Linked DNA regions of Homo sapiens. The protein of the gene in region 4 interacts with the protein of the main gene of each other region in a pairwise test. Each region holds a gene or a part of one and is shown on either strand. Other genes may lie near its edges. The genes, in order: TMEM82, ZDHHC15, TLCD4 and CYP4F2.

Region 1 (4,316 bases), on a different chromosome or scaffold from region 4:
CCGGGACTGAGGCCCGGGAAAGGGAAGCGACGTGGCAGGGCCAGCAGCAGACCCTGGGCCTTTCTCTAGACTGAGCACCATTCCCCGTGGGTGTGCTCTCAGCGCCGCACCGACCTTCACACTGCAGAGATGGATGCCAACTCCCTGGCAGGGGCAGGACTGCTGCCGAGCAGCCCCACCTGCCCTCCCAGCCACACCCCAAGTCTGTAAGGGCCGCTCCCAGGAACACCTGCTACTGCACACTCCAAACCAATAAAGTTTTATATTTTGTTTACTTCAACGACCCTCCTCTGTGGTGAATCTCAGTCTCCCCCATCCCTGACCCCCACCTTCTGCTCCCTCTGCCCTTTCTGTTTGTGAAAGCAGGATGGGAGCCGTGGTCCACCTGTTCAGCTCCGCCCTGCTGGACCCAGGTGAGGCCTGCCACCTAGTGGACCCAGGGAGGAGCATCAGGAAGGGCGGCCCCGGCCTGTGGGAGGAGAAGGCTCAGGCAGGCTCGGGCTGCAGGAGATTCCACACCGAGTCAGAGCCGGAGGCTTTGGGAAGCTGGAACCAGACCTTACAAAAAGCAGGCAGAGCTGACCTCCTGGCTGTGGGGGAAGAGAGCCCCAGACCTCAGGCTGAGAGGGCACAGCTGATCTCTGGCTATGGGGGGATAGAGTCCCTACTCTCAGACCCTGGGCTGAAGGGTCAGAGCCCACACTTCAGGCTGCAAGAGGACAGGACCCACACCTAAGGCGGGGCAGGACAGATGGAGCCTGGGACTTCGAAGGGGCATTGGGTGGTTCAAGCCCTCAAGGAAGATTGCTATTTTTTTTTTTTTTTTTTTTTTTTAGACAGAGTGTTGCTCTGTTGCCCAGGCTGGAGTGCAATGGTGTGATCTCAGCTCACTGCAACCTCCGCCTCCTGGGTTCAAGCCATTCTCCTGCCTCAGCCTCCCGAGTAGCTGGGATTACAGGTGCCTGCCACCACGCCCGGCTAATTTTTTGTATTTTTAGTAGAGACAGAGTTTTACCATATTGGTCAGGCTGGTCTCGAACTCCTGACCTTGTGATCTGCCCACCTTGGCCTCCCAAAGTGCTGGGATTACAAGTGTAAGCCACTGCGCCTGTCCTCCCTCAAGGAAGATTTCAAGTAAAGTGGATGCCAGACTTTAGCAGGGACAGAGACCAGAGACCAGCCCAGAGACACCTGTCCCTTCACCCCACACTGCCCAAATGGGGAGCCCGGGCAGCAGCTGGCTCCAGGCACCCCGTGTGCCTGGAGCTGGGACCTTGCCCTTCTGGGCCTCGAAGGGTTAACACCCCTGGCTCTCCTCCCCTCCCCTCCCCTGGGCCTTTGACCCCTCCCAGCCTCTCTCCTTCCCTCCACCGACACCTTTGCCCAGTGACGTTGGTCTGTCCTTACGCAGACCTGGCCGGAGGCTGGGGCTCCTTCCGGGGCTGCCATGTTCTCTCTTCCATCCCTCCCCTCCTGGCTCCCCGGCCTCCCCTCCCTCGAGTGGGGCTCTAGCCTCCTTGACTCCCTCCTGCAAGGTGAGCACCTCGCCCCATTCCTGCCTTGGCCCCGCCCCCTTCCAGCTCTTTGCAGTGCAGGGTGGACCCCACCCACCTGGTCTCCCGACACCCCTGCCCCTTGGCCGCCCCCTCTGACCCTACCAATGAAGCCTGCCCTCCTAACACCCCTGCACGCTGCCTCGCTGCCTCCCTCCCGCCCCCTCAGGCCTGATCGGGGCCCTTGGAGTCTTGGTCCTGAACAGCCTCCTGAAAGTTTACTTCTTCGTGGGCTGTGCCAAGTGAGTGCCCACCTCATCCCCCCAGGGAATGTGGCTGGGGGCACGGGGACCCCCACCAGGGGTCGAAGGTGGCAGTTCTGCACCCCTGCCCACACCCATTCTGTCCCCAAAGTGACCCGCAGCGGCGACCCGAAAAGGAGCGGCTTCGGGCCCAGTGGGCCTCCCTGGAAACGGTGCACCTGGCAGGGCTGGCCCTGTTTCTGACGGTCGTGGGGTCCCGGGTGGCTGCCCTCGTGGTGCTCGAGTTCTCCCTCCGGGCCGTGTCCACGCTGCTGTCCCTGGGCAAGGTGAGGCCTCCGGGAAGGCAGTGGGTGGATCACTCCCCAGCCCAGGGCCCGGGCTCACCCCCGGAATGTGGGCAGCAGGGCCCAGGTCCAGCATCCCAGCCTCTTCGCCGTATTTTCCGTAAGACTGAGAACAGAGGCTGCAGGTTGCACCTTTGGGTTTGGTTGCGGAAGCGGCCACACTCACAGTGGACACAGTCCCAGTCCCAAGAAGACAAGAGCGACAGTTTCTGTAGATCCGGCCCCCCAAATGCCAGGCCCTGCGCCGAGTGCACCGTGTGCATCACGTAATCCTCACAGCCACAGGGGTAAAGGTTTGCTCTGATTCCCCATTTCACAGATGGGGAAACTAAGGCTCAGAGAGTATGTGGCTTGTCTATGGTCAACAGATAGAGTCAGGCTTTGGACCCAGGTCTCTGAGACTCTGAACCACCACCCTTCAGCTAACAGATGGGCCCCAAGTACTAAGACATGATTGAAGGCTGGGCGTGGTGGCTCACGCCTGTAATCCCAGCACTTTGGGAGGCCGAGGCAGGCGGATCACCTGAGGTTAGGATTTCGAGACCAGCCTGGCCAACATGGAGAAACCCCATCTCTAAAAACAAAAACAAACAAACAAAAAAATTAGCTGGGCATGGTGGCGGGTGCCTGTAATCCCAGCTTCTTGGGAGGCTGAGGCAGGAGAATTGCTTGAACCCAGGAGGCGGAGGTTGCAGTGAGCGGAGATCGAGCCACTGTACTCCAGCCTGGGTGACAGAGCAAGACTCTGTCTAAAAAAAAAAACAAAACAAAACCCATATGATTGAAATTAAGGTGAGAGAGATGATCCCCTAGGGCTTCATCTGAAGCCGATGTGGCCCCTTCGGGAACCATCCCCAAGGTCCCTTCAGGCTCCGGCTTCCTGTGGTGGGCAGCACCTGTGGTGAGGCAGCCCCCACATCTCGGCCCCTCTTCGGCACTCCCCGCAGGGCTCCCAGGGTGCCGCCGAGAGGCTGCAGCTCTACCTGCTGTGCCAGTACTCGCTGGGCTGCGGGCTGACCTGTGGCCTGAGCTTCCTGCAGGAGGGCGCCCCTCACCGCACGCTGAACCTGCTGCTGAGCCTCGGGCTGGCCACGCTGCTGGGCCTGGGTGCCCGGCGCCTCCACCGCCACGTCTGCCGCCTCTACGAGCTGCACAGCAGCCAGCGCTACTGTGGGGTGTGCCTGGGCCTGCTGGCCCATGCACATGGCCTCCCCCAGCTGCTGGGCCGTGCCCTGGCCATAGCCTTTGCCGTGGGTGACCTGGCAGCTGTGGCCCTCATCAACCAGGACTTCCTGACCACCTCGGAGGCCATGCGGTTCTGGACACCGCTCACCATCTGCTACACGCTGCTGGTCATCTACATGCAGGGTGAGCGCTGCGGGGCCTGCTCCATTCAATCCACGCACATCCCTCTGTCTGGGTCAGGCTCCGGGGAGGCCGAGAGCCATCAGCCCTCACTCTTGCCATCCCAGAGAGCCTGGTCAGGACAGAGGCTGTGTGGCGGGGGCAGTGCAGAGAAGCAGCATGTAGTGGGCACCCTGAGGTTGTAGTCTTTAGATTGGGCTTTGAAGGATGAGCAGGAGATCCCTAAGAGAAGCGAGGCAGGGAACAGAATCTTGGACAGAGAGAACCGCATGTGCCAATGCCCAGAGGGGAGAGAGGGCATGGCCGTGCCAAACAAGCCACAGGAGTCCAGTGTGGCTGTCACCCCAAGGGCACAGGGAAGGGGTGAGGCTGGCCAGGTTCGAAGGGGCCTGTTGGAGAGCCCTCAACAGCCAGGCGGGGAAGTCTGATGAGAGGCTGCTGTCCAAGTTTGTTTATGTTTTTGTTTTGTTTTGCTTTTCTGTTTTTTGAGATAGGGTTTTGCTTGGTGGCCCAGGCTAGAGTGCAGTGGCACGATCATGGCTCACCGCAGCCTTGACCTTCTGGGCTCAAGTGATTCTCCCACCTCAGCCTCCCAAGTTGTGGGGATTACAGGCACACACCACTATGCCAGGCTAATTTTATTTTTTGTAGAGAAGGGGTCAGCCGGGCACAGTGGCTCATGCCTATAATCCCTGCACTTTGAGAAGCTGAGACAGGCAAATCACGTGAGGTCAGGAGTTCAAGACCAGCCTAACCAACATGGTAAAACCCTGCCTGTACTAAAAATACAAAATTAGCCCAGTGTGGTGGTCCATGCCTGTAATCCAGCTACTCAGGAGGCTGAGGCACAA
Region 2 (3,729 bases), on a different chromosome or scaffold from region 4:
CAGCCGATAACAGAAATACAAAAGATCATTCAAGGCAACTAAGGACACATTCGTGGGCACAAACTAGAAAATTTAGAGGAGATGGATAAATTCCTGCAAATATACAACTGTGCTAGATTAAACCAGAAAGAAATGGGAACTCTGAAGAGGCCAGTAACAAGCAGCAAGATTAAAATGGTAATAAAAAAATTGCCAACAAAAAAAAGTCCAGGGCCAGATGGATTCACAGCTGAATTCTATCAGACACTCAAAGAAGAATTGGTACCACTCCTACTGAAACTATTCCAAAAGACAGAGAAAGAGGGAATCCTTCCTAAATTATTCTATGAAGCCAATATTACCCTAGTACCAAAAACCAGGAAAGAACATAGCTAAAAAAGAAAACTGCAGACCAATATTCCTAATGAATATAGATGCAGAAATCCTCAACAAAATACTAGCTAACCGAATTCAACAGCATATCAAAAACATAATCCATCATCATCATGTGGGTTTCATACCATGGATTCAGGGTTGGTTTAACACAGGCAAGTCAATAAATGTGGTACACCACATAAACATAAGTAAAAACAAAAATCACATGATCATCTCAATAGACGCAGAAAAAACATTTGACAAAATCCAGCATCCCTTTATGATTAAAATCCTCAGCAAAATCAGCATAGAAGGGAAATATGTTAAGGTAATAAAAGCCATCTATGACAAACCCACAGCTAAATTATACTGAATGGGGAAAAGTTGAAAGCATTGTTCCTGAGAACTGGAACAAGACAAAGATGCCCACTTTCACCATTTCTATTCAACATAGTACTGGAAGTCCTAGCCAGAGTGATCAGACAAGAGAAAGAAATAAAGGACATCCAAATGAATAAAGAGGAAGTCAAACAGTCACTGTTTGCTGATAATGTGATCATATACCTAGAAAACCCTAAAGACTCTTCCAAAAAGCTCCTGGATCTGATCAATGAATTCAATAAAATTTCACGTTACAAAATTAATGTATACAAATCAGTAGCAGTGCTATACACCAACAGCAACCAAGCTGAGAATCAAATCAAGAACTCCACTACTTTTACTATAGCAGAAAACAAACAAACAAACAAAACTTAGAAATATACCTAACCAAGGACATGAAAGACCTCTACAAGGAAAACTACAAAACACTGCTGAAAGAAATCATAGACAACGTAAACAAATGGAAACACATCCCATGCCCATGAATGGGTATAATCAATATTGTGAAAATGACCATGCTGCCAAAAGCAATATACACATTCAATGCAATTCCCATCAAACTACCACCATCATTCTTCACAGCACTGGAAAAAACAATTCTAAAATTCATGTGAAACTATAAAAGCCCGCATTAGGCAAAGCAAGAGTAAGCAAAAAGAACAAATCTGGAGGCATCACGTTACCTGACTTCAAACTATACTACAAGGCTATAGTCACCAAAGCAGCATGGTACAGGTATAAAAATAGGTGCATAGACCAATGGAACAGAATAGGAACCCAGAAATAAGCCCAAATACTTACAGCTAACTGATTTTTGACAAAGCAAACAAAAACATAAAGTGGGGAAAGACACCCTATTCAACAAATGATGCTGGGATAATTGGCAAGCCACATGTAGAAGAATGAAACTGGATCCTCATTTATCACCATATACAAAAATCTACTGAACTCAAGTTGGATCGAAGACTTAAATCTAAGACCTGAAACCATAAACATTATAGAAGATAACATTGGAAAAACTTTGCTAGATATTGGCCTATGCAAATAGTTCATGACCAAGAACCCAAAGGCAAATGCAACACCAACAAAGATAAATTGATGGGACTTAATTAAACTAGAAAGCTTCTGCATAGGAAAAGAAATAGCAGAGTAAACAGACAACCCAAAGGCTGGGAAAAATTATCCACAAACTATGCATGTGACAAGGGACGAATATCCAGAATCTACAAGGAACCCAAACAAATCAGCAAGAAAAAAACAATCCCATCAAAAAGTGGGCTAAGGACCTGAATAAACAATTCTCAAAAGAAGATATACAAATGGCCAACAAACGTGAAAATATTCTCAACATCACTAATTTTCAGGGAAATGCAAGTCAAAACCACAATGCAATACCACCTTATTCCTGCAAGAATGGCCGTAATTTAAAAATCAAAGCATAATAAACGTTGGCTTTGATGTGGTGAAAAGGGAACGCTTTTACACTCCTGGTGGGAATATGAACTACTACAACCACTATGGAAAACAGTATGGAGATTCCTTAAAGAACTAACGTAGATCTGTCATTTGATCCAACAATCCCACTCCTGGGTATTTACCCAGAGCAAAAGAAGTCATTATATGAAAAAGACACTTGCACAGGCATGTTCATCGCAACACAGTTTGCAATTACAAATTACAAAAATATGGAACCAGCCCAAACCAATGAGTGAATAAAGAAAATGTTACATATATATATATATATATATACACACACACACACACACACACACACACACACACACACACACTACTCAGCCATAAAAAATATACACTACTTGGCCATAAAAAGGGAACAAAATCATGGCATTCTCAGCAACCTGGATGGAGTTGGAGACCATTATTCTATGTAAAGTAACTCAGGAGTGGAAAACCTAATATCATATGTTTTCAATTATGAGTGAGAGCTAAGCTATGAGGATGCAAAAGCCTAAGAATGATATAGTGTACTCTGGGGACTCAGGGGGAAGGGTAGGGGGTGGCAAGGGTTAACAGACTACATGCTGGGTACAGTGTTTACGGCTTAGATGGTGGGTGCACCAAAATCTCAGAAATCACCACTAAACAACTTATCCATGTAACCAAACACCACCTGTTCCCCAAAAACCTATTGAAATAAAAAAAGTAAAATTAACCATCATACCAAAAGGAGCAGAGGGATGATCATCCCAGGCAAAAGGAACTGCAAGCACAAAAAGCCTTGAAACAGGAGCAAGCTTGATTACAAGAGCAGATAGGCAGCCAGTTTCACTGGAACATAGTATGAGGAGAGTTTTACAAGATTCATTTGAAGAGATAGGCAGAGGCTAGATGATACAGGCCATGGTAAGGAGTTTGGATTTTATTCTGAAGGTGTTGGAAATCCATTGAGAGTTTTAAGTGGAGAGTGATATGATCTGATTTACATTTTTTTTTTTATTTTTAGAAACAGGATCTTGCTCTATCGCCCAGGCTGGAGTACAGTGGTTCATTCATGGATCACAGCAGCCTCGAACTCCTGGGCTCTAGCAATCCTCCCGCCTCGGCCTCCCAAGTAGCTGAGGCCACAAGTGCACACCACCATGCCTGGCTAATTTATTTTATTTTATTTTTTTATAGAGACAGGGTCTCACTATGTTGTCCAGGCTGGTCTGGAACTCTTGGTCTCAAGCGATAGTTGTGCCTCAGTCTCTCAAAGTGCTGGGATTATAGACATGAGCCACTACACCAGATCTGATGTAGATTTTGACAGATCACCCAGCTACTCTGTATAGTAGGTCTTTTGAGGGGCAAGTATGAAAGCAGAGTGATAAATTACACAGATATTGCAGTCAACTAGCTAAGAGACAATGTGGCTTAAATGAGGATAGGAGCATTGACAGTATATTTTAAAATATGCAAAAGGACCCAGATATGCATGTTCTTCTCCCTTCCTCTTTGACTCAATTATACCCACGACTTTAGTCACTCACATAC
Region 3 (3,729 bases), on a different chromosome or scaffold from region 4:
TCTAAACATATATCCCAAAGTCTTACCTGATAATAATTCTGTTCAAAATATAATATTCATCCATTAGAACAAAGACTTAAAAACTCGATTTTTGGGCGAGGGTGGGATGATACATTTTTTAATGGTGAATTGTTTGAGTGCTTTTAAATACAGTAGTTAAATGAACAATTCATAAAATGGATAAGGTATGATATGTTTTATGACACCTTTTAACATTCATGAAATAAATGCTTTGTATACATTGAATTTTAACAAACTAAATGAGCAGCCCGTGCCCACCTTCTGCTCTAGGATCAGCAGAGAGCATACGAAAGTCTTCAGGGGAAACCTCCTCACATTTAAGATTAGATTCTCCATTCTCTTCTGATTACTGATTATATTTTTTTTCCAATTTTGTGTCCATCTGGCCTCCAGATACCTATTTGCTTTAATCTTAGAAAAGCATTATTCTCCTTACATCCCACTTAGCAAATTATGGTAATGCTTAATTTATGTACAAAACTTTTATGTATTGTTTGGTTAATATTAAACCTAGGCTAAAAGACCACAAATTAAAATTTTAATACCCAATAAACATATGTTGAATTAAAAAGAAGTAAAAGAGCAGTAAAGTTAATGGAGTCTCATAGAGAAGAATTGTAATATCAATATTTTTACCAAGTACACACACACACACACACACACACACACACACACACACACAAAGAATGAGGAAAGAATTCATTATAGACATATGAATTCTGATGGAAGGGGCCCTGTGGGAGATTGATTCTTATTACGATATCCTGGTTGGAAGGGAATGAAGTGGGGTTATTGCTAGTGCAGTCAATGACTTGGCTTTTCTCTGGTGAATTGATTTCAGTAGGTGACTTTATTTCTTTGCATTAGGCAGCTGGAAATGTGTATTGATTTATTTCTTTTTCATTTGAGAATCAGCTTTATCAAAGATGGAGCCATAGAAATGCTGTATTTGCTGGATATGAGCAAATGCCTTAGTGCCTTTTTTTTTTTTTTTTTGCTCTGAATGTTCCTAAGATTTTTAGGAGCCAAATAAAGTTCAGCTCAATGAAATAGAAAACACACTTTGAGTGTGCATATATGCATAGTACTATTCTTTCTGCTAACTCGATTGTTAAGACCTGAAGCTCTTTTATAAAAATCTTTTTTTTTTTTTTTTTTTTTAATAAGGGATACAAAGCCCTGCAGGCCTTTTGCTCCAAGAATGTGTGTGATTGAAGAGCATGTTTTAAAAGTTAAATTCTCATTTGTGCAGTGACGGTGTTAGCGGTGGAGGGTGTTCAGGTTCTTGGCATTTTGAACAAAGAATTAGACAAAATGCACAAAGCAAGGAAGGAATGAAGCAATGAAAGTAGCGATTTATTAAAAATGAAAGTACACTCCACAGGGTGGGAGTTGGTCCTACCATAGGGGCTCAAGAGCCCGGTTACAGAATTTTCTAGGGCTTAAATACCTGCTACAGGTTTCCCATTGGCCACTTGTTGTACACCCCATGCAAATGAAGTAGTGGCCCACAATCTAGGCCGGTTGTGGTGCCTCACGCCTGTAATCCCAGCACTTTAGGAGGCTGAGGTGGGCAGATCACGAGGTCAGGAGTTCAAGACCAGTCTGGCCAACATGGTGAAACCCCGTCTCTACTAAAAATACAAAAATTAACCGAGTGTGGTGGTGCGTGCCTGTAATCCCAGCCGCTCGCGATGATGAGGCAGCAGAATTGCTTGAATCCGGGAGGCGGAGGTTGCAGTGAGCTGAGATCTATCGCACCACTGCACTCTAGCCTGGGGGACACAGCAAGACTCCATCTGGAGGCGGGGTTGGGGGCGTGGCGGAGGGGAGGGGAAGTTACACTTCTGTGCAAAGGAAGACTTGGCTGGCAGTCAGTCAGATTGGTTGGGGAAAGCAACCAATCAGAGGCTGAAATGAAGTTATAAAGTTATACTCCTATGTAAACGTCTGATTGGTTGCGGAAAGCAACCAATCAGAGGTACTTTCAGTTTTCCATTTGCCACTCAGAAAAGTGAGGGAGGGGTTTTCAAAGCGAGTAACCTCCAGTTATTTTGTTAGTTAGGTGTGTAAAGTTGGGCTTTTCTGTTTGATTTAGTTCTAGGAAGTCAGTATGAATCGGCCTTAGGTTCCCTGCCTCCAGACCCTATTGTCTTGCCTCAACAGTGCAATGGCTCTTTGCTAAGACTGTGTTCTTCTTAAGATTTTAATTTTGTTTTAAATGTTGTTTGTCCTGCTCCAAAATTAGTTTTTTAATTATGGAATTATTTTTTGTTTTGTTATTACAGGCAGTGTTAGTTCTATGGTTTTTGGCTTGATTGTTTCTTAGAAATTATGTAACCAACTCTTTCATATCATAGATGAGAAATTGAGGGATAAAGAAATCGATTTGTCATAAATTTAATTGAAATATTATTAGAAGAATAGTTTTTACTTATAGTACTTGAAATTCTCTGTTAATATTAAGACTTAGATAATTTTGAATATCATGATGTTAAAATTATAAATGACACCTCTAATATTGAGATCTTTAAGATAAAACAGACATAAGATACATGACAAATAGATGGTAAAGGTGAAGAAATATACAAAAGGTCAAAAATTCTTATAGTTTATATTCTTAACATTTGTTCTAAATTTTAAAAATTACTAAAATTACAAGACATATTTCTTAAAATAAAAAAATTACTCTAGGTTTATTATGAGACAACAATTTATAGCTGTCATTTATCTTAACAGGTTGAAGAAATATGGAGATCAACACAAAACTGCTCATCAGTGTTACCTGTATCAGCTTTTTCACCTTTCAGCTTCTTTTCTACTTTGTAAGTTACTGGTTTTCAGCAAAAGTTTCTCCAGGTTTCAATAGTCTCAGCTTCAAAAAGAAGATTGAATGGAACTCAAGGTAAAGCATATGAAAATGTAATTGATGACAAGAAACTAGTTTATGAGATAAAATTATTTAAAATATTTCAAAAAAGTATTTCATTTAGGATCTAATGTAAGGCCAAATTTTTATTTGATCTTAGAAATAAAAGGAAAAACAAGTAGATGATCTCATGCAAAAAAAAGTTTAAGAATTCATATATTGAAAGATGTTAGGAGAAATTTACTTAAGTTTCTGAGGAAGTGTGTGAAGATGAAGTAGACTCCAGCTGACTGTGGATGAATACTAGTACTTTCGTGTTCTTCTTTGAAATATTTATAACAAACATATTCTTTGGAAACAAAGATGGAAGAAAAAATTAGTTGTACTTTTGAGTAGCTTATACCATACAGCATTGGCCAACTTAGCCAGACCTGGGGCAGTTAGACTCTACACATCAGGGAACAAAGTGTACAGTCAGTGCATATGAATCTTTTAATGAACTTTGCATTATAATTTAGAGCCCTCCAGCATTTATTATTTTGTTATATAATTTTAAAGTAAAAATTTCTTTTTAGTTTTTTTTTTTTAAACAGAAAAGTAAATGGAGAAAGAATTAGACATCTATTGATATAGAAATCTGCTGGAGTTTTATTTTTTATTTTTATTTTATTTGTTTATTTATTTTTTTGAGACAGAGTCCCGTTCTGTCGCCCAGGCTGGAGTGCAGTGGTGAAATCTTGGCTCGCTGCAACCTCTGCCTCCCAGGTTCCAGTGATTCTCCTGCCTCAGCTTCCTGAGTAGCTGGGATTACAGGCATGCGCCACCATGCCAAGCTAATT
Region 4 (3,729 bases):
GGCCCAGTCCTGGAGGAACCCCCAACTTTAAGGAGATGGACCTGGATAGAGATATCCCCAACTTCATGGGATCAGGAAAGGGCCAGAGGGAGATGGATCACAGCCCAGGGAAGAACAAGGTCTCTGCTGGGGCAGGCTGGAAGGCTTCCTAGAGGAGGAGTTACTGGAGCTGTGTCTGGAACAATGAGTAGGAATGTTTGAAAGGAGAGTGCAGGGTGAGGCAATTGGACATCGTTAGTATTCAAGGCCCCTTGCCAGGCCTAGCATCACCTTGCCTGTCCCAAAGCCTAGAACAATGAGGAGGACTTGTGGCTGGTGGGGGATCTGGGCTGCTACTTCCATGATGTCCACCTCTGGTGGGTCAATTCCCTTTACCCCATCCTATAGCTTGTCTGCCCTAAGTTCGTTGCTCTCCTGCTGCAGGTCCCGGGGATCTCCAAGAGGAGACTCCACCCCAGCTTGGGTCCCTTTCCTTGACCCCTGTGCTTCCCATCGTTGGACGGGCGAGGCTGAGCAGGGGGAATGGGCAGCATCCTACAGAGACCATGGCTCTGACCTCAAAATGCTGAGTGACTCTGGGCTGGTACCCAGCTGTCTCTGGTTATTGAAGTCTCTTTCAGTTGTGAGTGGTGGAAACCCAACCTGGTGTGGTCTAAGCAAAGAAAGATAATCTATTGACTTTAAAGTCCAGGGAGGGTGGCCTTCAGGCATGGCTGGATCCAGGTCTCACACAAGGTCACTGGAAATCTGTCTTTCTCTCTTGGCTTTAGCTTTCTCCATGTCGCTTTTCCTATCAAGGTGGCCTTTTCCTCATGATGTCAACGATGAGTCCCAGAAGCTCAGTTCTTATGGGAAAGGCCACCTTTCCCCTAGAGTTCCCAGAAATGGCCCATGGTTTACTTCTCCTGGCCTGGATCACAGGACCAATTTTTCACCCAATCCCTGTGTCTCTGATTGCCCAGTCTTGGTAGGCCTGGGTCTTCCAGAGCTACTGTTTTGGGGGCACAAAGAAGTTTGTTGGTTAAGGATTCAGGCCATGGGTGCAGACAGACCTAGTCTTAGGCCTCAGGCTTGCCGTGGTCTGGGACTGTGGGCAAGTGACTTTATTGTTCAGAGCCTCAGGCTCTTCATCTGGAAAATGGGATGAATGAGAGCCCAGGGAACATGGTGTGTGGATCCACATGGGGAAAGACCTTTTCTGTCTGTGTAACTGAAGGACTGGAGAGTCCTGCATGGAGGATGTGAGGAGGCAGGGGGTGCTCAGCACTGACAGGAGGATGAGATGCTGCTTGAAATTCTCAGGGAGAGGGCTTCGACCTCTTCCCTGCAGATCCTTCTCTCTCACAGCCTAGGAGAGCATGAATTGGGTCCTGTGTGTTTTTCTCCAGATTCACAGCTCAGAAGAAGGTCTCCTATACACACAAAGCCTGGCGTGCACCTTTGGGGATATGGGCTGCTGGTGGGTGGGGCCCTGGCAGGCAGTCATCCACATCTTTCTCCCCACGTGCATCAAGCCTGTGCTCTTTGCTCCAGGTAGACATCGCACTGGCCAAGCTTTGCCCACAGCTGGGGTTGCTGTGCTGCCTCCAGCTGAACACGTGACCGATGTGCAGACAGGAGGGGCTGTGGTGGAGATGCCATTGCCTCCATCGCCCCTGGACTTCCACCTGTCTAACCTCTGTTGCTGTTTGCTCATGTCTGGGGCGTGTCTCTACAATGGCTGTTATATGGCCAGGTCTGCCTTGTATATTTACACCTGGGTCCTGGTTACACCTGAAATATGTTATACCTGGTTACATCTGGTATATAATTCCAACTGGGGTCATGTAGAGCTGGTCAAGTTTGGGGCTTATCTGTGGCCAAGGACATTTGGGGCATGTGAGGGCCTGTTTGGTTCTTGTCTCAGGTGCTGTTTGACACTGCCGTTTTCTCCTGGTGGTCCAAACATCTGGGCGTTGTGTGAGGTCTGGGGGTTGTGTGAGGTCTGGGACCCAGGGTCCCTATGTGAACTGTCTGAGACATTATTTGAGTCTTGTCTGAGGCATGTGTTATAGTATATTTGGGTCATGCCTGAGGAACAGTCTGGTTCACATGTTGGCTATGTCTGTGACATTAAAGGTACCATATTTATATTCAACCCAGAGCCTGTATGTGGAACACGCTTTTAAGATCATGTTAGACCATCTCATGTGCATGTTAGAGCACACCATCTCATGTTAGGAATTGTCATGTATTTTGTGGCCATGTCAGGACATGTGAACACATGTCAGGGTCATGTCTCATGTCCAGGTCCATGTCAGAAGATGCCATATCAGAAGATGTCAGAGAGTGCTGGGACAGACAGGGTGTCCTAGGTCCTTGTGAAGCATTCTGTAGAATGCTGAGCTGTGCTCAGGGGTTGCGGAACATGTTGGATCGTGTAGGAGGCATGTCAAGGCATGCTGGAACCCTGACATAGCTCCTACACGCCATGTTAGGCAGTGTCATTGCTGTACTGTGCTGCTGTAGCCTGGTCTGGTCTTCCCTCCCCTCCCCATCCTCCCTTCTTCCTCTGCCCTTGGCCCTCTTCCTGCTATGTGGGGCTCAGAGTGGGAGAAGTGCAAACCTCTTGCTGGGAGCCTCCACCCACCCCCAAAGTCCCTCTTTCACCTGCCTCCATGGCCCCTGATTGTCCTCATTTATGTCAGCTGCCATTGCACCAAAGGACAAGTTCTTCTACAGCTTCCTGGAGCCCTGGCTGGGTGAGTATCTGCAGGTGAACAGGGTTGGGAAAAACGTTGGGGGGCCAGGGGAGGGAGAGGTCCTTGCCCATGGCCCTTGGCTGCCCTGCTAGGGGATGGGCTCCTGCTGAGTGCTGGTGACAAGTGGAGCCGCCACCGTCGGATGCTGACGCCTGCCTTCCATTTCAACATCCTGAAGCCCTATATGAAGATTTTCAATGAGAGTGTGAACATCATGCACGTGAGTTATTTGAAGCCAAGGTCCCACTTGCAGCCTTGGGGTGAAAGGACAACAGAGAGATCTAGTCTGGAGTTTTGGCTCTGCTGGGTGCCATTGGGCCATTGCTCTTTCTCACTGAGCCTTGGTTTCCTCATCTGTAAAATGGGGATAATAATCCCTACTTAAAAGATGGTCAGAGTAATGTAATGGAGTCACGTCTCTGGTGCATAGCAGGTGCCCAGAAGGTGTCTGTTTCTATGTTTCCATCACCAAAGCCCTGTAAACACAAGAGGGTCATGACAACAATTTCATAGTAGCTGTTGCTGATAAGAAACCACCTGAAAACTCATTGGTTTAAACCAATAAGTGTTTATGTTTGCTAATAAGTCTTTGGGACAGTTGGCAGGTTCTTCTGTATATGGAAGGGACCACTCATGGTACATGAGCAGCTGGGGGTCAGGTAGGCAGCCTTGCAGGTGTTGACTGAATTCTGCCACATGTTTGGGTTTTGGCTGGGACATGTTTGGGTTCTCTCACGTGTCTAGGTTTGGCCTCATCTGGGACCCCTGGATGTTCCTCCCTATGATTGTCTCCTTCCAGAAGGCGCGCCATGGTTCACAATGCAGGCAGGGTTCCAAGGAGTAAGACAAGGCTTAGCTTCGTTAGTTATTAACTCATCATTTTCACCACATTGTATTTTGACATCGAAAGCCAAAAGTCCAACACAGAATCAAAGGCAGGGGGATAAAATAGGCTCTGTCTATTAATGGGAGTTGCTGAAAAATCACA

Evidence for each region.
Region 1: the proteins of CYP4F2 (region 4) and TMEM82 interact in a two-hybrid assay, tested with the Homo sapiens proteins (one large-scale study listed by BioGRID).
Region 2: the proteins of CYP4F2 (region 4) and ZDHHC15 interact in binary tests that used the Homo sapiens proteins (3 or more experiments, as listed by UniProt).
Region 3: the proteins of CYP4F2 (region 4) and TLCD4 interact in binary tests that used the Homo sapiens proteins (3 or more experiments, as listed by UniProt).

The regions. Positions count from the first base shown.
Region 1 is NC_000001.11:15,741,113-15,745,428, forward strand, and holds the start of TMEM82 (transmembrane protein 82), read left to right. Parts: upstream 1-1,386; 5' UTR 1,387-1,447; coding exon 1,448-1,535; intron 1,536-1,722; coding exon 1,723-1,795; intron 1,796-1,907; coding exon 1,908-2,082; intron 2,083-3,047; coding exon 3,048-3,468; intron 3,469-4,316.
Region 2 is NC_000023.11:75,432,453-75,436,181, reverse strand, and holds part of ZDHHC15 (palmitoyltransferase ZDHHC15), read left to right. Parts: intron 1-3,729. UniProt on the Homo sapiens protein: Palmitoyltransferase that catalyzes the addition of palmitate onto various protein substrates.
Region 3 is NC_000001.11:95,141,131-95,144,859, forward strand, and holds part of TLCD4 (TLC domain-containing protein 4), read left to right. Parts: intron 1-2,760; 5' UTR 2,761-2,771; coding exon 2,772-2,926; intron 2,927-3,729. Other genes in the region: TLCD4-RWDD3 (TMEM56-RWDD3 protein), read left to right, coding at 2,772-2,926.
Region 4 is NC_000019.10:15,891,541-15,895,269, reverse strand, and holds part of CYP4F2 (cytochrome P450 4F2 precursor), read left to right. Parts: intron 1-2,687; coding exon 2,688-2,741; intron 2,742-2,833; coding exon 2,834-2,961; intron 2,962-3,729. UniProt on the Homo sapiens protein: A cytochrome P450 monooxygenase involved in the metabolism of various endogenous substrates, including fatty acids, eicosanoids and vitamins.